Linked DNA regions of Homo sapiens: region 1 is linked to region 2. The links come from fine-mapping of genetic effects on plasma protein levels. A gene starts in region 2. The other region holds a variant in brackets. All regions are shown on one strand. Distances are between the middles of the regions.

Region 1 (12,149 bases), 24 kb before region 2:
AGAGAGGCTGCTCTGGCCCTTGCACTGCAGCTACCATCCCTGAGGCCAGTGGGGAGGCAGTTAGCCTCAGTTTTTCCCTCCCATCCCGCAGTGCTGGTGTTGGGAGGCCTCTGAGCTGGGGCTTATCCTAGGGAGTAAGTGTCTAAGTGCTTGGACTCACCAGCCCAGGGCCAAGGAGCCCCATGAGAAGCAGTGTCCAATCTTGGAAGGTGGAAAGAAGGATGGCAGGGAGTAGGACAACTGTTCAGCTAGAATGACCTGGGGAAAAGGATGGGGGAGCTGACTAGGGAGGGGGAAGAGGCACATCTCACCCACTCATCTGCTGGCCATGACCTTCCTCCTACCCAGGCAGCTCAGCTACATGCACCACTAAAGGTGGCCACAGCACTGCTTAGTCAATACCTACTGTGCAGGCCTTCTGTGAGCTCATTCCAAAACACGTTCTCCAGGAGAGGACCAGGCTCAGGTAGGTTGTCACCTGCCTTCAGTGGCATAACTAATGAGGAAGAACAAGAATTTAGAGATGGGTCTGATTCCAGAATCTAGTGTTCTTGCTCAGGCCTTGGCTTTGCATGTGGAGCCACAGGCCCAACACGCTTTCTTCCCAGGGTGGAGTGAGAGCTACGGCCCACAAGCCAAGAACCAGGACTCACATTTATAAATAATTGGACAATCAAAGGGAAATATTTCATGAACATAAAAATAATCCCCTCACACCTGTAATCCCAGCACTTTGGGAGGCCAAGACAGGCAGATCACGAGGTCAGGAGATCGAGACCATCCTGGCTAACACGGTGAAACCCCATCTCTACTAAAAATACAAAAAATTAGCCGGGTGTGGTGGCGGGCGCCTGTAGTCCCAGCTACTCGGGAGGCTGAAGCAGGAGAATGTTGTGAACCCAGGAGGCAGAGCTTGCAGTGAGCTGAGATCGCGCCACTCTACTCCAGCCTGGGTGACAGAGCGAGACTCTGTCTCCAAAAAAAAAAAAAAAAAAAAGATCCCAAATCCAAATTCTAGTGGCCATAAATAAAGTTTTATTAAACACAGCTATACTCATTCCTTTGTGTATTGTCTATACAAAGCTGCTTTTGGGCTACGACAGCAGTGGTCACAGAGACCACACAGCCTGCAAAGTCGAAAATATTTATTATACTGTCTGATCCTTTGCAGAAAAAGTTTGTCGATCCCCATCCTGCAGCATCAATTTTATTCATAGATTCAATGCAAAAACTCATTTAAAATATTTCATATGGCCAGGCACAGTGGCTCATGCCTGTAATCCCAGCACTTTGGGAGGCCAAGGCGGGCGGATCATCTGAGGTGAGGAGTTCGAGACTAGCCTGGCCAACATGGCAAAAGCCCATCTCTACTAAAAATACAAAAATTAGCCAGGTGTGGTGGCAGGAGCCTGTCATCCCAGCTACTGGGAAGGCTGAAGCAGGAGAATTGCTTGAACCCAGGAGGCAGAGGTTGCAGTGAGCCGAGATGGAACCATTGCACTCCAGCCTGGGCAACAGAGTGAGACTCCATCTCAAAAAATACACACACACACATACATATATATATATATATATATATATTTCATATTAACTCCAACATGGTTTTGTATAAAAATGAATCACATAGTGGAATATAAGATTCATGTCTACTTTTGAGATAAAATGCTTCCAAGAAGCCCTTGGCTTTGGGCATGCTTCTTGAGGGCCAGCCTCCAAACCCGAGGGCATACTTTCACTTTGGAGGAAACACTGGAGTTGCCCTGTCCCCCTCCCCTCTTCACACTGAGTCTTTTTTGTTTGTCTGTTTTTGTTTTTGTTTTTTTGAGACAAAATCTCCCTCTGTCACCCAGGCTGGAGTGCAGTGGTGTGATCACAGCTCACTGTAGCCTCGAACTCCTGGGCTCAAGCGATCCTCCTGCCTCGAGAGTGACTGTCCTGTTCCCCACTGAGATGTCCAGCTGGCTCTCAGAAGCAGGACACTAGGAGAGGCTCAAGAGTCCAGGTCGATGCAGTGCTGTGGCCAGACTGAAGCAGCTTTGCCACGTCACCCTGGTCTCATCTACCATCAGGCCCCTGCTGGCTGTGTGTGCCTGTTCCCCCTCAGGATGACAACCTGGCCTCACCTTTCTCTGTCCCCAGCGCCTTGGGGCTCTTTGAAAATCCTCAGGGACTCCCAAAGCCTGCATAGGGCAGGAGAGCTGGGCCGAGGAAGGTCCACGCTGCACAGGGCAGGCAAGGACTCAGCACTGCTGGGTGTTTAGACTCTTTCCTGGCTCAGACCAAGAAAACTCTAAACTCTGTAGACACAGCTCCCAACCCCCACCCACTCCCCACTCCAGCTCTGACCCAGGCTTTTCCATTCACAGATCCCAGACTTTCCAGACCGGCAAAGAGCCCGGAGGCACAAGGCACCGTGAGTGCCTTGGGCAGGGGTTGGGGGCGGGGCGGTGGATTGTATGAGGCTGAGGAAAGCCCCAGCCGCAGCCCCTTGGGCCTCCCCAGGTAGAAGACACCCCTACCCTCACCCCAGTCCCTTGTCAAATTTCCCCGTCAAGAAGCAGCACATACGTATATAAGGATACTCCTAGTGTTGGTGTGCATCTGAGAGAGAGGGAAGGAGGGAGGGAGGGAGAGCTGGAGGGCGGTGGGGCAGGGGAGCAGGTGTTCCTCCTGGCTAAGCCCCTGCAGCTACTTCCTTTCTTCTCCCAGACAAGTTGAGGATAATTAGCATCCCATGAGGGAAGAAAGAGGCAGCTCCCATCCCTAGACTGAGCGTGGGAGAATTCAGAGCCCCCACCAACTCCACTCCCAGTGCGCAACCCAGCATCCCCAAAACAGGCCCAAGGACAAGGAGTCCACCACCCCCACCCTGTGGGCCCAACCACTCCCAGCCTCTGTAAGGAACAAGAGTTCAAAGAAATAAAACCTCCATCCAAAGAGGTACTTGCTCTGCACAGTCAACCGGGGGGGCACAATGTTCTTGAAACCCTGACCTTTCTTTGGAGTTACTGGTTGTTTCTTGTGTTCTCTGGCTCCTTTTCAAGCTGGGCTGGTCCATGAGTGTCTCTCAGGGACAAGGTACGACAATCGGAAGCAGACAAAAAAAGATTCTCTGCTTGGCTTTTGAGTTTCGGTGCCTGGCCTGGGCACATGCCAGATAAGAGCAAAGCTTCCCAGCTACCATCCCTCCCGCCTGGAAAAAGGTTTCTGAAGGGAAGAGGAAAGGGGTGGTTGGCAGCGGTCAGTGGGGATGGACTGAAGGAACCAGCCTCTTTGAGGGTGTCTCGTCTGTTTCCAGCACCCAGGAGCCCCCTGGAGCCATGTCTGAACCCAGGCTTCTGGGATCCTCTTCCTCAGTTGCCCCACCAGCCTGCCCCTCCCACACGGCTGTGGCATCTCCAGCAGCAGCCCCTGTGTCTCCTGTGACAGACCAGTGAGGGGGGTGCCACCTGTGCCCTGAGCATCCACTTGAGATAGGGTCTTACCCATTGGACTGCCCTCCCATCTTCACCCTAGGGCACCCTTAAGACCCAGTGGAGGCCAGGTACGGTGGCACACACCTGTGATTCCAACACTTTGGGAGGCCGAGTTGGGTGGATCGCTTGAGATTAGGAGTTCGGGACCAGCCTGGCCAACATGGTGAAACCCCGTCTCCACTAAAAATACAAAAATTAGCCAGGCATGGTGGTGCGTGCCTGTAATCCCAGCTACTCAGGAGGCTGAGGCAGGAGAATCACTTGAACGCGGGAGGCGGAGGTTCCAGTGAGCCAAGATTGCACCACTGCACTCCAGCCTGGGCAATAGAGTGAGACTCAGTCTCAAAGAAAAAAAAAAGACTGGGTTGAGCCCCAGTAGGGGAGATAGCAGTACAGAAAGCCCCTCTCTTGTGCCTCAGTGGGACTAGGAGAAACAGCTTGAGGTCCCCTGCACCCCAAGTAAGGCAAGTGCTGGGTAAACCAACCCTGTGCTCAAACACTGACTTTGTGATATGGACTCAGGAGGCCTTGAGCAAAAGGGCCAGCCAGGCTCAGAGCCTGCTACTCTGAAGTCTGGCAGTGGCACCCACCTCCCTGCAGAAGAGGCAGACCCAGGGTTATCCATGGCAGGGTCACCAGGGCCTGGGGCTGCAGGATGCTAGGAAGTGGCTCAGCTCCTGCCTGGTCTGGGGCATCACTCTGGGCCTCTCCCTCCAGTGTGCCCATGGGGAGTTGAGCTGCCTGAGCCCTGGGACCCCTCCGAGCTCTGCCACCCTGGACATGAGACCTTGAGATGCTGTGTCCCCATCTTTGGGGGTGAAGGGTCCATTGACCAAGTTCACCTTCAGGCTGCAGGGCCGTCTCTGGCTGAAGTTCAGCTGACTGATGCTCCCATTTAATCTTGGGGCTTGGAGCAGGGTTCCTGAGCCCCCCAGGCAGAGTTCCCACCTTCCTGTTAGGCTATTCCCCATGAGCCTTTTTATAAAGAGTTTGGCTGGGAGCCAGAGAGTTTTGGAAAGTGTATGGGCCAAGCCAAGCTGTACAAACCTGTCTTCCTCCCAGAGCTGAAAGAGGCCAGGTTGTTCCCAGACAAATGCAGAGGCGGGGCCGGGGGTTGGGAAGAAGAAAGGGGGCTATTTTAGGAGGACTTGCATACTGCAGAGCCCCCACACAGCAGCAGAGGGTGTGGGGAGGCACAGCCAGAGGCAGCAGAGTTAGGGACCTGGTACCAGGTGTCTCATGTAGACACACACATGAAACATATGCATACACCCCCAAACGCATGTGGGCACAGACACAAGTTACACAGATACGTAGGCTTGCGACTGTGTATAAGCATGTGCTGATGTGTACAGAAATATGCACAGGTACATACTAGGCAGTCGCACCTGCAGCTGCAGGGACATGCACAAACATGCTCATACATACAATCACACACCACCACGTACACACACATGCATAGACACTTAGAGATGTACACAAAGGATGCAGATTGAGCAATGCCAGGCTAAACCCAGGAGGCTGGGAGAGGGCTTGCACTCCCTGACAGCCCAACTCCCTGAAACCCAGCACACACGTGCGTGCACACACACACACACACACACACACACACCCTGGGAGGAAACTGCTTCCTCCATAGGAACTTTTGGATCCAGGGCAACATGCAATCAAGACCTTGTACTAGGAAAGAAAGCGCCTTTGTCTGCTGGGACCAGGGCTGCAGGAGCAGCTGCAGCCTCCTCCAGGATAAGAGCCAGGCCAGTTCCTTGCCCTGGGGAGGAAGGTCAGGCCAGGCCCTAGATGGGGGGTGGAAAGAGGGAGCTGGGGGCTCCAGCAGGCCCTGCCACCAATCCCAGGACACTGTGTCTGGCTGG[G/T]GGCACAAAGCCCGGAAAGCCTGTTGTTCTCAGGCCTGGCCTCCCTGACCTCTAACCCTAGTTTGGCCCTGTCTCCAGAACGACTGTGGTTCTGATCCCAGCCCTGGGGCTACACTGACCCAGACTGAGACCTGGCTCGCCTGGGGCTCCATGCCTGCCATGTGCCTGTGACGTCACTTTTTTTAGCGGAGTGAAAAAAAGTCAGGCTCTGGAATTAGAAAGATGTGAAATTGAATCCTGATTTTGTCACTCTCTGAGTGATTTTGAGAATGTACTTGACTTTTTGAGCCCTAAATTCAAACTCCTGTTATACAGAGGCAAATCTTTTTATTTATTTATTTATTTAGAGACAGGGTTTCATTTCTCATTCCATCACCCAGGCTGGAGTGCTTGCCGTAACCAACCTTGAACTCCTGGGCTCAACTGATCCCCTCACCTGAGCCTCCCAAGTAACTAGAACTACAGGTGTGCACCACTCACCTGGCTAATTTTTTTTTAAATGTATCATAGAGATGGGGTCTTGCTGTGTTGCCCAGGTTGGTCTGGAATTCCTGGCCTCAAGCCATCCTCCCCACTTGGCCTCCCAAAGCACTGAGATTATAGGCATGACTCACCACGCCCAGCCCAAATCCTCTTTATTGAGCCCACTGCATACAGCTGCCTTCTCCCTGTGTGCATCTTCTCTTCTGGGCCTGGTGAAGCTGGGTTGGTCCTCTCAGCCCCCAGCACCCCTACCCAGCACCCTCTCCTGCTGCACTGGCCCCAGGGAGGAAAGCAAGACCCAGCCCAGATCTCTAGGGGCTGCCATCTTGGGAGCACCCCTCCTCCCTTGTGCCCTTTTCTCACCCTCTGTGGTCCCAGCCCTGTCCTTGAAGCTGCCCCGTGCCCCTTTGCACTCCTCATCACACTCTGAAGGCCAAAACTTCAGTGAGAACAGCCCTGTTTTTCTAACTCAGGAAAAGGATTTAGCCTTGGAGACCCTGCAGAGGTAACTTAAGCCCCATCCCCAGACACTTCCAGAACTAATTTTAGTCCTTCCATTCAACAGATATTTACCAAAGGCCTACTATGCTATTCTAGATGCTGGAGATTACACGGTGAGCAAATAGGCAAAACTTCCTGCCCTGGGGCTTACATTCAGGCTCCCCATGCCCCATGCTGCGTGGGAGCCTTTAGCCTCACACATTCTCCACATCTGCCCAAGGGCTGCAGTCACTGTGCAAGCGCAGACACACCTCCTCCTTCATGTTGCCACAAAACTTTGGAATGTCACTATCATCACCGTCGCAGCTCTTTCTCCCACTAAGCCGCTCCTGGCTGATGCTAGGAATCTCAAGCGCAGGAATGCGCCTGGTGTGAATGCACTTGAACTATTGAAAGCCATTGAGGCGCGCTCTCTCTCTCTGCCCCGCCACCTCCTGCCCTCATGTAAGATGTGCCTTGCTTCTCCTTGCCTTCCACCATGATTCTAAGGCCTGCTCAGTCATGCAGAACTATGAGTCAATTAAACCTCTTTTGTTTATAAATGTTTTAAAAATGGGCCGGGCGCGGTGGCTCACGCCTGTAATCCCAGCACTTTGGGAGGCTGAGGCGGGCGGATCACGAGGTCAGGAGATTGAGGCCATCCTGGCTAACACGGTAAAACCCCGTTTCTACTAAAAATACAAAAAATTAGCCGGGCGTGGTGGCGGGCGCCTGTAGTCCCAGCTACTCGGGAGGCTGAGGTAGGAGAATGGCGTGAACCCGGGAGGCGGAGCTTGCAGTGAGTCGAGATCGCGCCACTGCACTCCATCCAGCCTGAGCGACAGAGCGAGACTCTGTCTCAAAAATAAAAATAAAAAATAAATAAAATAAATAAATAAATAAATAAATAAATAAAAATGAAAGCCATTGTGGAGTCTGACAGCGGCTTTCAATAGTTCAAGTGCATTCACGTACCACTGTGCCTTAGCGTAGGTCTTCTGATCTTACAGTAACTTGGCATCTTTTAACTATGATGCAGTTATGATAAATTATTGCATCATAATTGAATTATACATAATTATTTCTCTTAATTGCATCATAGTTAAATAACTTGCCCTTATTTTAAATAAAAGCATGCTGTTTTAGGAAATAAATCAGTCATGCACAATGGCTCATGCCTATAATCCCAGCACTTTGGGAGGCTCAGGCAGGAGGACCTCTTGAGGCCAGGAGCTTGAGACCAGCCTTAATAACATAGCAAGGCCCCATCTCTACAAAAAATAAAAAATTAGCCGGGCACAATGGCACATACCTGTAGTCTCAGCTACTTAGGGGGCTGAGGTGATAAGATTGCTTGAGCCCGGGAGTTCAAGGCTGTAGTGAGCCATGATCATGCCACTGCACTCCAGTCTGAGTGACTGAGCAAGACCCTGTCTCAAAAAATATAAAAGAAATGGACTGAACCTGAAGCTCAACTAGTGTCAGTTCAGTTGCCCTGCTCTGTCACTCACAGTACGATGCATTTGTTCATGAAATATTAATTGAGCACTTGCTCTTTGCCGGACCTGGAGAAGGGGAAAGGGGTCCCTGGAGCTCCCTGTCTAGAGTGAGCCAGTGAGCAGAAAATGACAATGCTGTATAGTAAGTGCTGAATAGACTGATGGGCAGTTGCCATAGGAGCCCAAGGGGAGTTCCTTGGGGGCAGTGGGGGCAGATGGATTAAAGACAGTTTTGCAGAACAGGGGATATTTGAGCTGAGCCTTGAAGGAGCAGTTGGATTTTTTTTCAGGTAGAGATGAAAGAGAGTGAGCCAAGCAGAAGGACCAGCATTTGCAAAAGTCATGGAAACAGGGAAATGCCTGATGTGTGAGGAAGATGGCAAAATGTTAAATGTCCCAGGCAGGGAGGTCAGGCTGGCTGGGGAAGTGACTGGCACCAGATAAGACTGTGAATGCCAGGGAGAGTGGGGAACCCCTGCCACATGGAGGTCACCCAACCCTGGCCCTGGAGCTGTCCCCCTGAGCTGTCCACCCCCATCCTGAAAACTCCGTTCAGCCCCTCCCCTCCTACCTTCCTCCTGCCCTTAGAAACCCTGATTTCACTGTGGTCAAATTCCCCCCCATTCTTGGCTTAGGGAAAACAATTATGAGGCAGGAATTCTTGTAAGAGCTTTTTCTATATTAAAATGCTTGATCCTCTGTTAAATATTGTTTGTCTTTTTTTTCACAGTTTGACCTTATTTTATTATGTTTTGTTAGAAAGAAGCCTCCCATTATTATGTCATGAAATCTATCAGTCTGTTCATATGATGTCTTCTTAGGAAGTTGTCCCCTATCCTAAAATTGTGTAAGTATTCGGATTCTTTTATGGTTTACCTTCTAGCATTTAAATCTTTAAGCCATCTGCAGTATATTTAGATTTAAGGTAGAAATCTAACTTTTTTCCAAATTGTTAGCCAGTTGTCCAGTCCCACATCTTAAGTAATCCATCATTTCTGCCCTGTTTTTTTTTTTTTTTTCAAATTTTCAATTCCCCCCTCTCCTCGATTTTTAAAGTTATACATGCTATCCAGAAAAAAGAAGAGGAACGAGCAGGAGGGGGATGAGAAGTGTGGAAATGTATGGCTAAGGAAGTAAAAGCCCTCCCCTTTTACCTCCCTGAGGTAGAGGCAATAACTGTTCATCATTTGTTATAGATCCTATTATTATTCGTGTTATAACACTTACTAGGTTTCTCTTAAGTGCAGAAATATTCAAAAGAGAAAACCCAAAAGGGATCAAAACCTCTGGAACATATTTTGGCATAAAAACATGTTGGCTTCTCAGGTGAAGGAGGTTGCAGTGAACTGAGATCACGCCACTGCACTCCAGCCTGGGCAACAGAGTGAGACCCTGTCTCAAAAAAAAAAAAAAAAAAAAAAAAAATATATATATATATATATATGCATATATATGTATATGTGTGTATATATGTATACGTGTGTGTATATATAGGTATATATATATGTTGGCTTTTTTTAAAAAAAAGAATACATATGGCAGGGCACGTGGCTCACACCTGTAATCCCAGCACTTTGGGAGGCCGAGGCAGGCGGATCACAAGGTCATGAGATCGAGACCAACCTGGCTAACACGGTGAAACCCCGTCTCTACTAAAAATACAAAAAATTAGCCAGGCATGGTGGTGTGCGCCTGTAGTCCCAGCTACTAAGGAGGCTGAGGCAGGAGAATCGCTTGAACCCAGGAGGCAGAGGTTGCAGTGAGCCAAGATTGCACCACTGCACTCCAGCCTGGGCAACAAAGCAAGACTCTGTCTCAAAAACAAAAACAAACAAACAAACAAAAATATATAAGGTTGGAAAATAAAACAACTCTAAAAGATACAAAATGAAAAGTGAACACTTCCCTCTCACTCACTACTGTCCCACGCCAAGTCCCTCTCCCCAAAGGTAACCACTGTTGAAATTTCCTATTTGCTTTAGTGTGACATGCATTTCTTTGCCACATTCCACATTCTCATATGGAGATGGGTCTACTGCTCGTGTTTCCATTTTCTGTGCCATTTCCCTCTCTGCTGCGCCGGCACAAGTACCATAATGTTCAATGTATTTTAGTGTTACCTGTGTTTTAACAGCTGAGAGGGTAAGTCCCGCTTTAATGTTTTTCATCTGCGGAGACATGGTGAGTATTCTACACTTAACGTTCAACTTTATATTGCACCCTCTCCCTACCCCCACCAATTTGATTGGAAATTTGTTGGAAGGGCATTGTGTGTATAGATTCATTTGGAGAAGATGATGACTTTATCTCTTTGTGGACACCTCACCCCTGTGACTGCATTCAGATTTTGTGACTTTTCTTTTTTTCCTTTTGAGACAAGGTCTTGCTCTTTCATCCAGGGTGGAGTGCAGTGGCACAATCATGGCTTACTGCAGCCTCGACCTCCCGAGCTGAAGTGATCCTGCCACCTCAGCCTCCCAATTAGCTGGGACCACAGACACATGCCACCACCCCTGGTTAATTTTTTTATTTTTAGTAGAGACAGGTCTCTCTATGTTGCTCAGGCTGATCTCAAACTCCTGGGCTCAAGTGATCCTCCTCGGCCTCCCATTGTGGGGATTACAGGCGTGAGCCTGGCCCTTTTCTCTTTGAATTGGAGTGAAGGCATACAGATTTTATTAACATCTACACAGGGAGAACCACAGAATCATTCCCCCAGACGTTGAGACTTTTCTTGTTTGGGATTTTGAACATCTCTCCTTAGAGCATCTTAATCTTCGTCCATCTGATGTCATAACTGCAGCTGCCTACTAGGAAAAGGGTTGGGAGACTCGGTCTCTGTCTTCCCATACTCGAGGGTATCAGGTGAAAGAGGGTGTGGCCTGCTCAGCAGAGCTCCAGAGAGCAGAACTCAGACCAGTTGGGGGTCACACAGAGGCCGCCTTTGGCTCAGTGAACGGAAGAATGTTCTATCCGTTGGAGCTGCAGGGCCATGGAACAAGCCACTGGGGGAGGTGGTGAGCTCCCCACCTTGGCTCTTTTCCAGTGTTCCAGGGAAAATGCAGCCCGTGCTGCCCAGGGGCATCCGTGTTGCTGAGAGGAGTAGGGGAGGATGCTCGGTGACTTGGGCCCCTGTTCTCTCCACTCAGGGAAAGTCAAGGCTTTCTGAGCCCCGTGCTGTGCTGCTTACTTCATTTCATTTTGCACAATGACCTCTCTGGGTAGAATGGCGTTATTCTATTTTCCATTCAAAGACAGGGAGGCCAAGGACTTCTCCAGGCTCATCCAGCTAGGCCTGCTTGAACCAGATTCCAAAGCAGACCCTCCCCAAGCTGCCTGTCTATGATTGTCCCCTGGGAGCCCCTGCTCAGAGTCAGGACTGAAAAAAAAGGAAGCGGGAACACCCTTCCTGTCTTTCAGTCTGGGGACAGCTGCAGGGCAGGTGAGCAGCCCAGTGGGCAGCAAGAAGGCACCCTGGCTCCTCTCCCATCCCTGGTTCTGCACGTCCATGTCTCTCCCCCGGGCAGCTCTCAGCTTGGCTCACAGTGTCCTCAGGGGGCCAATGGGCTTCTTGATTCCAGGCTGCACATCTGGAAGTTGACGCTATTAAAACAAACCCCATTATATAACAAACGGACATCTGGAATCCGTTAGCACTGAGTTTTTAGAAAAAGAAATTGTTTTGGATGTGCTCTCTCCTAAGAATGTGGCAAAGCGCCCTCACCCTGGCTGTCCAGGAACCCAGGGATCCAGGGGCCTCTCCTGGGCCCACTTCTCAAGGTACTCAGGCCAGGCCAGAGGTGGGCTGGGGCAGAGACAGAGACAGACTCCCCCGGCCCGCACAGGCAACTTCACTGTCTCCTGCTGGCTCCATCTTTGGAAGGCTCCTTTCCAATTTCATGTAAATATTCATTCAGCAAACACTTGTGTGCCTACTATGTGCTGCCAACTGCATATCATTCATATGGCCATGCCCCGCTTCTCCACTGAGCCTAAGCACCCCAACATGGCTTAAGAAAAAACATCCTGGACTTCCCTGGATTCTAAACAGCAACGCAAAACAGCCTGAGCCTCAGTTTCCTCAAACACAGAGCCCAAACGCCTTAGCTAGTCCCTAGAACTCCCTAGCACCCTCAAGGCCTCTTTCGGAATTGTCTCCCTACTCTTTCTTCCTGGGCATATTGGTGGGGGACACAAGGACAATTGACTTGGCATAGTCTCGTGGCAACCTTGATCTAGCAATGAAGAAAGATTTTATGAGAAATGTCTAGCTAATATTTTCAAATGGAAATTTTATCCCCCCCCCCAACACTTTATGATGAAAAATTTCAAACATA
Region 2 (11,490 bases):
CCTCCAGCAAGGGGCAGCCCCAGGTCCTTACTGGGGTCAGGCCAGCTGTGCCACATACTCTGGTCAGTGTCCGGACCTTCCAACTGGAGGCTCAGCCTGGCTCTAGCTGTGGTGGGCACAGGGAATGCAGACCCCTGCCCTGTACAGCTCATTCAACCCTGCCTCAGCCCTGATGTTTTGTCTCCTCTCTTTGTGGTACCTTCTAGACTCCTTCCCACACCCAGAGCCCCAGATTAGCCACCAAGGCCTTTTAGTCCTTTGTCCTGAAAGCCTCTAGAATCTAGCCCTGTTCCTCATCCCTCGGTCCCTGTTAGCCTGGTGGCTGACAGCTGCCAGGGCCACCCCACCGGCACCCCACCTCGTGTGTCTGCTCCACACAGCTGCAGCCACAGGATGTTTTTCCCGACAGTTCTGCATGCATCGTTTCCAGCTGTAAAGTCCAGACTTTTCACTGGGGTATTCAAGGCCCCTCTTGTCTGGCCCCTGCCAACCTCTCTTGGAGCCTGGGCTACCCAGAGCTCTGCGGGGTTCCCCATACATACCAGGCTCTCTCCTGCCTCCAGGCCATGCACATGCCGCACCCACCACCCACGGTGCTTTCTCCCCGTGCGGTGAACTCTAGTGTTGCCTGTTTTGTGAAACACCCTCTGATCCCTTCCCCCAAGCTCAGGCACCCAGGCACTTCTTCCTCTGTGAGCCCACGCTACCCTATGGTTCCTGACTATACAAGTTCATGTCCCCCTCTGCATGCAGGTCTGTCCCCCTCTCTTGGGTTGGGTTCCACAAAAGCAGATCCTGAGACAGGGATCTAGTTATAAGTCATTTATCAAGGGGGCTCCTGGGAGAGATACATAAGGGAGGTAGGAAAACAGGAGAGGATGGAAATAGAGCAAGAATGGATCCCAGGTAGAGTCTAGAGGGGCCTGACCAAGGGGGCTCTGCAACATAAACTAACACTGGGCTGTCCACCATGAGGCGAGGAGGCTGCCTTTTTTGTCCCCCTGTATATTAGTCCATTTTCACACTGCTGATAAAGACATATTCTAGACTGGGCAGTTTACAAAAGAAAGAGGTTTATTGGACTTACAGCTACGTGGCTGGGGAGGCCTCACAATCATGGTGGAAGGTGAAAGGCACATCTCACATGGCGGCAGACAAGAAAAGAGCGCTTGTGCAGGGAAACTCCCCTTTTTAAAACCATCAGATCTTGTGAGACTGAATCACTATCATGAGAACAGTGCAGGAAAGACCTGCCCCCATAATCCAATCACCTCCCACCAGGTTCCTCCCACGACACATGGGAATTGTGAGAGTTACAATTCAAGATGAGATTTGGGTGGGGACACAGCCAAACCATTTCACCCTATCAGCCAGTCACTCCTCAGCCAAGGGCAATTCACAGAAGGGGCAGCTGGGAGCATTCCCAGTAATCACACCTGCAGCCAGGGGATTCATGGGTACACTGACCAGGGAAAGGGAGTCTGGCTGGGGTACCCACAGCACCCCTGTTGAGTGTGACCTCTGCCAGATTTCTTGACGAGTGAGAGGTACATGGATTCCTGGTCCATCCAAGCACTGACATTTTCCAAACCCAGAGCTGCATGTGCTGCTTTGCAAGAAGGTCCTGCCCACAGCCTGAGGGGGCACAGCTGCTACTGCAGTGACTAGAAAGGAGGCCCAGATATCCAACCCCCAAGAAAGGACTCTGTGCAGAGCCCTGCCACACTCACTGGGCGTCTGTTATGTGCACGACTGTGCACATGGGAGCCTTGGCCAAAGTTCTCATCTATTCCTCATAATAATCATTTTCGTATAGGAAAGCAGAGGCTCAGAGGGGTGAAGTGACTCAAGGGAGGTCATGCAACTTGTGAGTGGAAGAGCTGGGATTCAAACCTGAGTCTAATTGACTCCTTGCCTGATTTCTTCCCCACAGTGTGTGAACCACCTTGGAGCAAAGCCCTTCCTGCCCACCATAAGAAAACTGGCAAGTCCTAGCTAGGTGCAGTGGCTCATGCCTGTAATCCCAGCACTTTGGGAGGCCAAGGCAGGTGGATCACTTGAGGTCAAGAGTTCAAGACCGGCCTGGCCAACATGGTGAAACCCCATCTCTACTGAAAATACAAAAATTAGCTGGGCGTGGTGGCTCACGCTTGTAGTGCCAGCTACTCCAGAGGCTGAGGCACGAGAATGACTTGAACCTGGGAGTCGGAGGTTGCAGTGAGCCAAGATCACGCCACTGCACTCCAGCCTGGGCAACAGAGTGAGACTCAGTCTCAAAAAAAAAAAAAGAAACTGGCAAGTCCAGGGTGATCTCTCTGCCCCACAACAGGTCTCAGCTAAACTTAGGGTCCTCAAGGACCATATCTGGCATTTGCAATAGTTGGGAGACCTGTGCATGTATTTTGTATATAATTTGCGTAATGTTGCATCTGGTTTGCATATGTCCATGTTGACAGTCCATCAGCAGTCACAATTTCTAAGCTGTTCCTAAGCTACTCTCACTCAATGGAAGTCCGTCCAGGCTTTACAGAGCCCAGTTTCCACGATTTCTGGACTCTTCCAGGACCTTGCCTCCAGGCTGCACATCTATCCCCCCTAGGATCCTGGACGAGCCCTGCTTCTGCCTAGCTGGATGGGGTCAGTGCAAACCCCTGCCTCAGAAACTCATGTGCATTTGGTATAACCTTTTATGATGGTGCAGATATAATCAAAATGCTGATGGTGATGATGTGGAGAAAAAAGTGAGCCTGGGCAAAGAGCCTTGCTGCACAGAACTTCCAAATGTGGCTCTGTGGGCAGGGAGGCCTAGCTGTGCACTCTCAAAAAAGAAAAAAAAAGAGGGTAAGGGAGATGGTCAGGGACAAAGGGCTGCACCTTAGGGCTGGTGCCTTCAAGGGCTGTGGTCCCTGTGCAGGAGGGGTCCATCTGCAGCAGGAAGAGCTTGTACCAGAAAGCCAGCAGCTTCAGTGCTTTCTATTTCTGTCTCTTTTAGGGGAACTGCATCCCATACAACTTTGTGTGGTTTTTAATACTCTTATGTGCTGGGCCCTCAATAAGAAAAGGAAAGGCCAGATGTGGTGGCTCATGCCTGTAATCCCAGCACTTTAGGAGGCCAAGGTGGGCGGATCATTTGAGACCAGCCTGGCTAACATGGCGAAACCCTGTCTCTACTAAAAAAAAAAAAAAGAAATACAAAAAATTAGCCAGGCGTGGTGGCATGTGCCTGTAATCCCAGCTGCTTGGGAGGCTGAGTCAGGAGAATTGCTTGAACCTGGGAGGCAGAGGTTGCAGTGAGCCGAGATCACGCCACTGCACTCCAGCCTGGGCAACAGAGTGAGACTCCGTAAAAAAAAAAAAAGAAAAGAAAAAAAAGAAAAGAACAGAAAAGAAAGGCAGGATGCATAGGGCTCACCCCTGCAGTCCCAATACTTTGGGAGGCCAAAGCAGGAGGATCACTTGAGGCCAGGAGTCTGAGACTAGCCTAGGCAGCATAGTGAGACCCCATCTGTACGAAAGGAAAAACTCATGCACATGCATGATAGTGGTATGGGGGATGGGTTGGGTGTGGTTGTGCATGTCCCTGTGAACTGAAACTGCACTCCCACTCCCGTGTATGGCCCGTTTCCATCCAGGTGTAGAAACTCCAGTCTGAGTCAGAGGAACATGACTGCCTCCTTTCCTCCTCTGCTTCTGGCCTCCCTAGGTTTCCTGTCTGGCAGATGCAAAGTGGCCTCATCGTCTATGGGGGGACCCCCGCTCTGGCCTGATCCAGCCAAGACCCTGAGCATCTCCCTGTACTGAGGTCCTCCACCCCCACTAGAATGGGGCCCAGATCCTGGATCCCAAAACTGTTGCAGTGAAAGAGGGAGCATGGTGTTTGATGTCAGCCACCTGGGAAAGGGGGAAGTGGGGTCCAGCTATCCTTTTAGCCCCTATGACGTGGATATTTCCAAGCTCAAACAGGGTCCAGCCTCTTCCTTGTGAGTTTTGGGCCCCACATCTGGGGCTGGGGAAGGGAGTGAGAGGAAGGGGTGGGACCACTTGGAAAAAGATCACAGCCTCTGGGGTGGGGGAGTTCCTCCCAGAGCCAGGCTGGGCAATGCTGCCAGGCAGTCAGCACCCAGCCTAGGATGAGGAGCTGGCTCAGATGTTTCTCACTTCCTAAAAAGCGCAAAGTCAGTGGTTACAAGATCAAGAGCTTGTTGGGGATATGGTGTATCTTGCCCTCAGCAAAATGGTTCATAACATCTCTCTTAGAGGTTGGAGCATATAATAGCACATTCGGTGCTTTTATAGGGAGAGTGAAAGGCTGTCTTAGGGACCATGTGGTTGCTGTAAGACTATACTTTCAGGGATCATTTCTACAGTTCATGACTAGAGAAGTTTCTCTCTGTAGAGCACATTTGGTTGCTGGGATCAGAAACCCATTCAAGCTAGCTCCAATGGTGGACTACTGGAAGCAGATAGGGAAGTCACAGCTTGTCCCCAGATGGTTACTCACCACATAGCCCCTGACTCTGCCCCTCTCTCCCCTGACCACACTCTTTCTCCCTTTCCCATGATTCCCCCAGAGCTCTCGTGGTCTCTCCTATCATTACCAGCCAAGTGCCCCTGTAGTGGATTGAATTGTGCCCCTCCCAAAATTCATGAACATTTGGAACCTCAGAATGTGACCTTATTTGGAAATAGGGTCTTTGTAGACGTAATCATTTGAGATGAGGTTATGTTGGGCTGTACATCCAATGACTGGTGTCCTTATAAGAAGAGGAGGCTGGGCTGGGTGCAGTGGCTCACGCCTAGAATCCTAGCAATTTGGGAGACTGAGGTGAGAGCATCACTTGAGCTCAGGAGTTTGTGACCAGCTTGGGCAACAAAGTGAGAGCCCATCTCTACAGAAATTTTAAAAATGAGCTGTGCATGGTGGTGCACAACTGTGGTCCCAGCTACAGAGGAGGTGGGGGCAGGAGGATCACTTGAGCTCAGGAGGTCGACGCTGCATTCCAGCCTGGGTGATGGAGCTAGACCTTGTCTCTATTTATTTATTTATTTATGGAGATGGAGTTTCGCTCTTGTCACCCAGGCTGGAGTGCAATGGCATGATCTCGGCTCATTGCAACCTCCACCTCCAGGGTTCAAGTGATTCTCTTGCCTCAGCCTCCCAGGTAGCTGGGATTACAGGCGCCCGCCACCACGCCCGGCTAATTTTTTTATTTTTAGTAGAGATGGGGTTTCACCATATTGGCCAGGCTGGTCTCAAACTCCTGACCTCAGGTGATCCCCCCACCTCGGCCTCCCAAAGTGCTGGGATTACAGGCATGAGCCATCGCGCCCAGCCCTGTCTCAAATTTAAAAACACAACCAGAAAGGCAGGGCGCGGTGGCTCACGCCTGTAATCCTAGCACTTTGGGAGGCCGAGGCGGACGGATCACGAGATCAGGAGATCGAGACCATCCTGGCTAACACGGTGAAACCACGTCTCTACTAAAAAAAAAAAAAAAATACAAAAAAATTAGCTGGGCATTATGGCGGGCGCCTGTAGTCCCAGCCACTCGGGAGGCTGAGGCAGGAGAATGGCGTGAACCCGGGAGGCAGAGCTTGCAGTGAGCCGAGATCGCGCCACTGCACTCCAGCCTGGGCGACAGAGCGAGACTCTGGCTCAAAAAACAAAAACAGAAAGAAGAGGAAAGGACACAGATCACAGTCACAGAGAAAAAAAGGTCACCTGAAGAGGGATATGCGGAGGGAAAGTAGAGGCTGGAGTGATGCTGCTACAAAGAATCCTTGACCAAAGAACGCCAGAGATTGCCAGGAACCACCAGTGGCTGGAAGAGGCAAGGAAGGCTTCTCCCCAGAGCCACTGGAGGGGGCATTGCCCTGCTGGCCCATGGATTTTGGAGTTAGCCTCCAGAAATGTGCAAGAATACATTTCTGTGTGTTAAGCCACTGAGTCTGTGGCTGTTACCACAGCCCTGAGAAACTCACACAACCTACACCTGGAAGCTGGATTCCTTCAGCTTCTGTGTTCTGATTCCAAAGCCTGGGGGAAAGCAGGATGGGCCTAGCTGGGGTCAGATGTCCGCCCCACAGAACCCAAAAGCCACTAAAGCTAAGGGCAGGAAATAGATGTGGGTTTCGGAGCTGCCCCTTCCAGTATCCTTGATAACCATCACCCTATCCAAAAGGCATTAATTCATATCTCAAGGTCAATTTGGAGGGAGGTCTCTCCAAGCAAGCCCCAGAGTTCTGTACACCTATCAGCTCCTGGGGCAAAGACACAGACGGCTGTAGCCACCGGTGTGGATGAGACAAGGCCAGGAAAGTACCGCTCTGATGACAGAATCAGAAGGACTCTGTGCAGGTTAGAGAGTTAGCAAGGTGATACTGAATGAGGACGACGATAAAACCCAACTCTTGGGTTCCAAGAGTCAACTTCACAAGCAAAATGTGGACGACGCCTGGCTTCACCGCGGCAGTGCCTTGTGAGAAAGACCTGAGGATTTTCTCTGACCAGCCGGCTTAGAGCTTCAGTTGCACGAAAAGCACAGCACTTTTGGCTGGGCTGGGGCGGTGATAGGCCTTTCGGGCTCGGTGCAACCCATACCTAAGACAGAGAGGCAACACAGGCGCCTCCAGAGAACCAGAGGTGCAACCGGGCCACCAGGCTACGTGGCAGAGGTTGCGGGGTAAGGGGGAGGTGGGATGCCTGGGGAGAGGTCAGCGGAGTTATCAAACTAAGGTTCCCGGGCAATGATGGGGCCAGGAGGCAGAGCGAGCAAACGGGGATGATCTGGGGTCTATTCCAAAGAGGTGGCGGGGGAGGTGGTGCTGCTGTGCCCCCAGTCACGGCCATCTCGGCTCCAGAGCCCTGGAGAGCAGTTCCCGGGTTCACACGGACTCTGAAGACAAGCGTATCCTGAGGGTGGACGACTCCTGGAAAGTCCACGCCCAGGCTGGCCTCAGGGGTCCGCTTCTCTGCGTCTCGCCCCGTGCCCGCAGGCGACAGAGTGGCTGGTGTGCTCGGGGGGCCTCCCAGGGCGCGGCGGCCTGCGCCCCTGCCACCTGGGGCTGCTCCCTTTGGAACCTCCTGTTCGCAGGCGGCTCCTCGGCCGTCCGCTCGGAGCTGGGGCGAGGGGCTGGCGGCGGCGAGCGGCGCGGCCCCAAGTTTATGCTAATCCGCAAAGAGCCCGCCTCCCGCCTCCCCTCCGCGGCCCCAGCCGCTAGCAGCGCCGGCCACTCCGCGGGACGCAGCCGCCGCGAAGCGCCAGGCGGCCGGGCCAGCGAGCTCGGGGGCCGAAGGGGACCCCGGGACCCTCGGGGCGGGACCCGGGCCGACCAGCGGCGGGGGCGGCGCGGCGCTGCAGGCGGACACCCGGCGGGGGGCACCGCGCGGGGCCGGGCAGAGGCGCGGGGGCCGCTATGGGCCGCCGCCGCCTGCTCGTCTGGCTGTGCGCCGTCGCGGCGCTGCTCTCGGGGGCGCAGGCCAGGGGCACCCCGCTCCTGGCGCGGCCTGCGCCGCCCGGTGCCTCCCGCTACAGTCTCTACACGACGGGATGGCGCCCGCGGCTGCGCCCGGGGCCGCACAAGTAAGCGCGGGCGGGCGGCGGGCGGGAAGAGGGAGGGATGGGCCCGCGCGCGTCGCCGCTCCCACCTGCCCGCACCCGCGGGGGGCGTCGAGGCCCCGGGCACCCCGAGGCCGCTGCACAGAGGGGGCGGCGCCCGGGGCCGAGCCCCTGCCCAGGCGAGCGCCCTACGCTCCGGGAGGTTGCGGGGCTGGCGAGGAAAAAGGAACCGAGGGGGCCTGGCGCGGCGGCTTGGGATCCTGGCAGTGCCAGCGGAAACCTTTCCAGCGAAGTAACATTTTCCAGCTGCGCTGTGTGCAGACTCCGGGCGAGCGGACCAGGTGGAGGGAGAGGAGGAAAGGCGGTCCGCGCGCTGAGCACGCGGGGCTCCCCCGCCCCGGGCCTCCCTTCTCTCCCCTGGCCCGGCCAGGTAGGAGATAGAGCTGCGCATCCGGGCGGCCGCTGCCCTCTCGCAGTCAGCCTGGCCCCAGCAACCCCATGGGAGCCCCAGCGTGGCCGGGCTGCAGAGCCAGAGCGGGCTCCTGGCTCCGGGCCTGTGCTGTGGCACAGCCGTCCACAGCGGTCGGCTTATGCCAGGCAGCCACCTCCTCAGCCCTTGTGGCTCATCAAGGAGCCTGCTTTCCCCGCCTCAGCTTCTGGTGTTTCGTGGGCAGTGGCTTGCGAACTGGCCTCAGTTAAGTGGGCTGGAGGCTCTGCCTGGGGTGCTGGCTGAACTTGAATTCTAGCTGAATTTGAGAGCTGTTGTAGGAGGAAGAGTACCGACACTCAGTGGGCCTGGGTACATCACAGCGAGCCTCCTGGAGGAGGTGGTACAAGAACTGCTCTGAGAGTAAGGGAACAGGACCAAAGGCAGGGGCTGCAAAACTACGAGGAGAGGTGGATTTCCCCGGGAGCCAGGCAGGGAGGAAGGACAAGACATGGTGCTCTCAAAGGAGTCACTGAGTGGGGACTCGGAAGCCTTAAATGCCAAGATAAGGAGTTTGGAATCAGCGAAGGATGGGGGGGTGTGGCAGGGCACTTGAGGGAGAATCCGGGCTGGCCTCTTCCCCACGCAGGGAGGGGCAGCCACATCAGGCTCCTGGTTCCAAATAGTGCTTAGCCCAGGGGCCACCCATCACGGAGGCTGGAATCAGAGACCAGCAGCGGGGCTGGACCCCAGACCAAGGGCGTTGGCTCCCAGGGACACAGAGAACAGACAGAAGAGACATGGGAGTTTGGAGTCCTGCTGAGGCCCACAGATGGAGGTGGGAGGGTAGGCGCCTCTGTGGGCCTCGCTCAGCCAGATATTCCAGGGGTGCCATTTTCTCCTGTAGGGCCCTCTGTGCCTATGTGGTGCACAGGAATGTGACCTGCATCCTACAGGAGGGAGCGGAGAGCTACGTAAAGGCTGAATACCGGCAGTGTAGATGGGGGCCCAAGTGCCCCGGGACAGTCACGTAAGTGCACTCCTCACCTACACACTTGGAATCCCCTGGCACAAGCGCCAGTCCTGCCTTCAGCTGAGAGCAGCTGCCAACTCCACAAGGGGCTTCTTGGACTCCAGAGAGCCCACCTGAGCCCCCATACAGGCCAGAGTAGAAGGCGGCCCCAGAAAAGAGGGTGCCAAGGAGGACCCCAGGGATTTGGGCTTGCAGCAGAGCATCACCCGCACAGACAGGGGCAGGCTTGGGTTGGAGCCCAGGAACCACAGAGGGACAAGGGGAAGGTTCTGGGGGCAGAGGCAGCACAAGGCTAGGAGGAAGTGACAGAGGCAGAAGGTGAGGGGAGAGGAGGGAGCAGAGGGCCCCTTAGGCAACGGGTGATGCCACAGGGGGGCCTGGCAGGCCCAGGGAGGACTGTGGTGACCACAAGGAGGCAGGCCATGGGGCAGGGAGAGGAAGCCGGAGCAGCAGGGCTGCACGCACATGGGATGCACAGCTCTGTACCTGGAGAGGTTCACGTGTGTGTGTGGAAACAAACCTGTTGTCTCCGGTGTGTCAGTGGGTGAACAGGTACGTGGCTGAACAGTGAGGGCATGGACCCTCGCGAGCCTGCCTGTACCCTGGACCTTCCCTTCCCTGCTCACAATCAGAGGTACCCGTCCATCTGCCTCTCTGACCAGAGCCGAGGTCCCGGAGCAGGCTAGAGAGGAGTGGAAAGAACTAAGGGGAGCAGGTAGGAGCCAAGAGTGGCCCCCAGGGCAGTGAGGGGGCTGCCAGCGCCAGCTCCAGGGCAGTGCCCCTCCCTGCCCACAGGGAGGGCTGGGGCTGTGTCTGATTCTCCCAGGTGCTACTGCAGCCTGAGTGGAATTTCTCATGGCAGCCTGAGCTAGAGGGGGTCCAAGTGGTCTTGGGAGGGATGGGGCAAAATTCCTGCTTCTCTCCAAGCTACCAGGATGGGTGGGACTTCTACCTGCATCCTTCCCTAACATGACTGTGAGCTTCAGGAAGGCCTGCCCTTACCCACCCCTGTCACCTTAAGCACAGAAAAAGTACAGCCCTGGGGGTGCTATGGAGGTGGGGAGATACCCAGCCTTATGCAAGTGTCTGAGGGCGGCCCTGAGTGCCAGCTAGGGGGAGAAGCACAGCCCTCAGGTGCAGGATCCCACTCTCTTGCCCTCCCTGGCCCAGGTACCGCACAGTACTCAGACCCAAATACAAGGTTGGCTACAAGACAGTGACAGACCTCGCCTGGCGTTGCTGTCCCGGCTTCACTGGGAAACGCTGCCCTGAGCACCTCACGGACCATGGGGCTGCCTCACCCCAGCTGGAGCCTGAGCCTCAGATTCCTTCAGGGCAGCTGGACCCAGGCCCCAGGCCCCCTTCCTACAGCAGAGCAGCCCCCAGCCCTCATGGTGAGTCTGCCCAAGGAGACCCTCCAAGGTGATTGGGTTTCTTGGGCTCAGTGGCAGGGGCAGGGAGGGGACTGATCCCAGGCTGGCTGAGCTCCGGCATGGATGGGGAGGGGCAAGCCCCAAGCCCCACTTTCACCCCACCATAAAGCTGAGGGAGTTATGCCCAGTGAGAAGGTAGGCTTAGAACAGAAAGTCTGGGCTGGGCGCGGTGGCTCATGCCTGTAATCCCAGCACTTTGGGAGGCCGAGGCGGGTGGATCACGAGGTTAGGAGATCGAGACCATCCTGGCTAACATCGTGAAACCCCATCTCTACTAAAGATAGAAAAAAAATAGCCGGGCGTGGTGGTGGGTGCCTGTAGTCCCAGCTGCTTGGGAGGCTGAGGCAGGAGAATGGCATGAACCCGGAAGGCGGAGCTTGCAGTGAGCCAAGAGCACACCACTGCACTCCAGCCTGGGCGACTGAGCAAGACTCTGTCTCAAAAAAAAAAAAAAAGAACAGAAAGTCTCTTGGGTGGCCTGGCATTGTGACAAGCTGAGAGGGTGAGGCCAGTGATGCCCCTGGGGCTCTCTTCTCTTTCCCAGGAAGGAAAGGCCCAGGGCTGTTTGGTGAGCGGCTGGAACGCCTGGAGGGTGATGTCCAGCGCCTGGCTCAAACATATGGTACCCTCAGTGGCCTGGTGGCTAGCCACGAGGATCCCAACAGGATGACTGGTGGCCCCAGGGCTCCTGCTGTCCCTGTGGGCTTTGGGGTCATCCCTGAGGGGCTTGTGGGCCCAGGAGACAGAGCCAGAGGGCCACTAACACCTCCCTTAGACGAGATCCTAAGCAAGGTGACAGAGGTGAGCAACACTCTTCAGACCAAGGTGCAGCTTCTAGACAAGGTGCATGGGCTGGCACTTGGCCATGAGGCCCACCTGCAGCGGCTGCGGGAAGCCCCACCATCCCCGCTCACCTCCCTGGCCCTGCTGGAGGAGTACGTGGACCGACGGCTGCACCGACTCTGGGGGAGCCTGCTGGATGGCTTTGAGCAGAAGCTGCAAGGCGTCCAGAGTGAGTGTGACCTGCGGGTGCAGGAG

Evidence for each region. A credible set is the group of variants that fine-mapping cannot tell apart. PIP is the posterior inclusion probability: the model's chance that the variant is causal. Protein levels are from the aptamer-based SomaScan assay of Sun 2018.
Region 1: its variant is the best candidate, but not a certain one, in a credible set for the plasma level of the EMILIN3 protein (Sun 2018, PIP 0.56).

Annotation. Positions count from the first base shown.
Region 1 is chr20:41,386,313-41,398,461 of GRCh38, reverse strand. No RefSeq gene overlaps it. Among named protein-coding and RNA genes, the nearest start is that of EMILIN3, 26 kb to the right of the region's middle. RefSeq lists an enhancer at 6,124-6,789. The variant G/T (reference allele first, on the strand shown) is at 5,351.
Region 2 is chr20:41,362,561-41,374,050 of GRCh38, reverse strand. EMILIN3 (elastin microfibril interfacer 3) reads left to right here and starts at 7,233. Exons shown (of 4, transcript NM_052846.2): 1 at 7,233-7,583; 2 at 8,894-9,016; 3 at 10,190-10,413; 4 at 10,997-11,490. The coding sequence starts at 7,417. It also overlaps the pseudogene LOC124904985. RefSeq lists an enhancer at 7,995-8,496.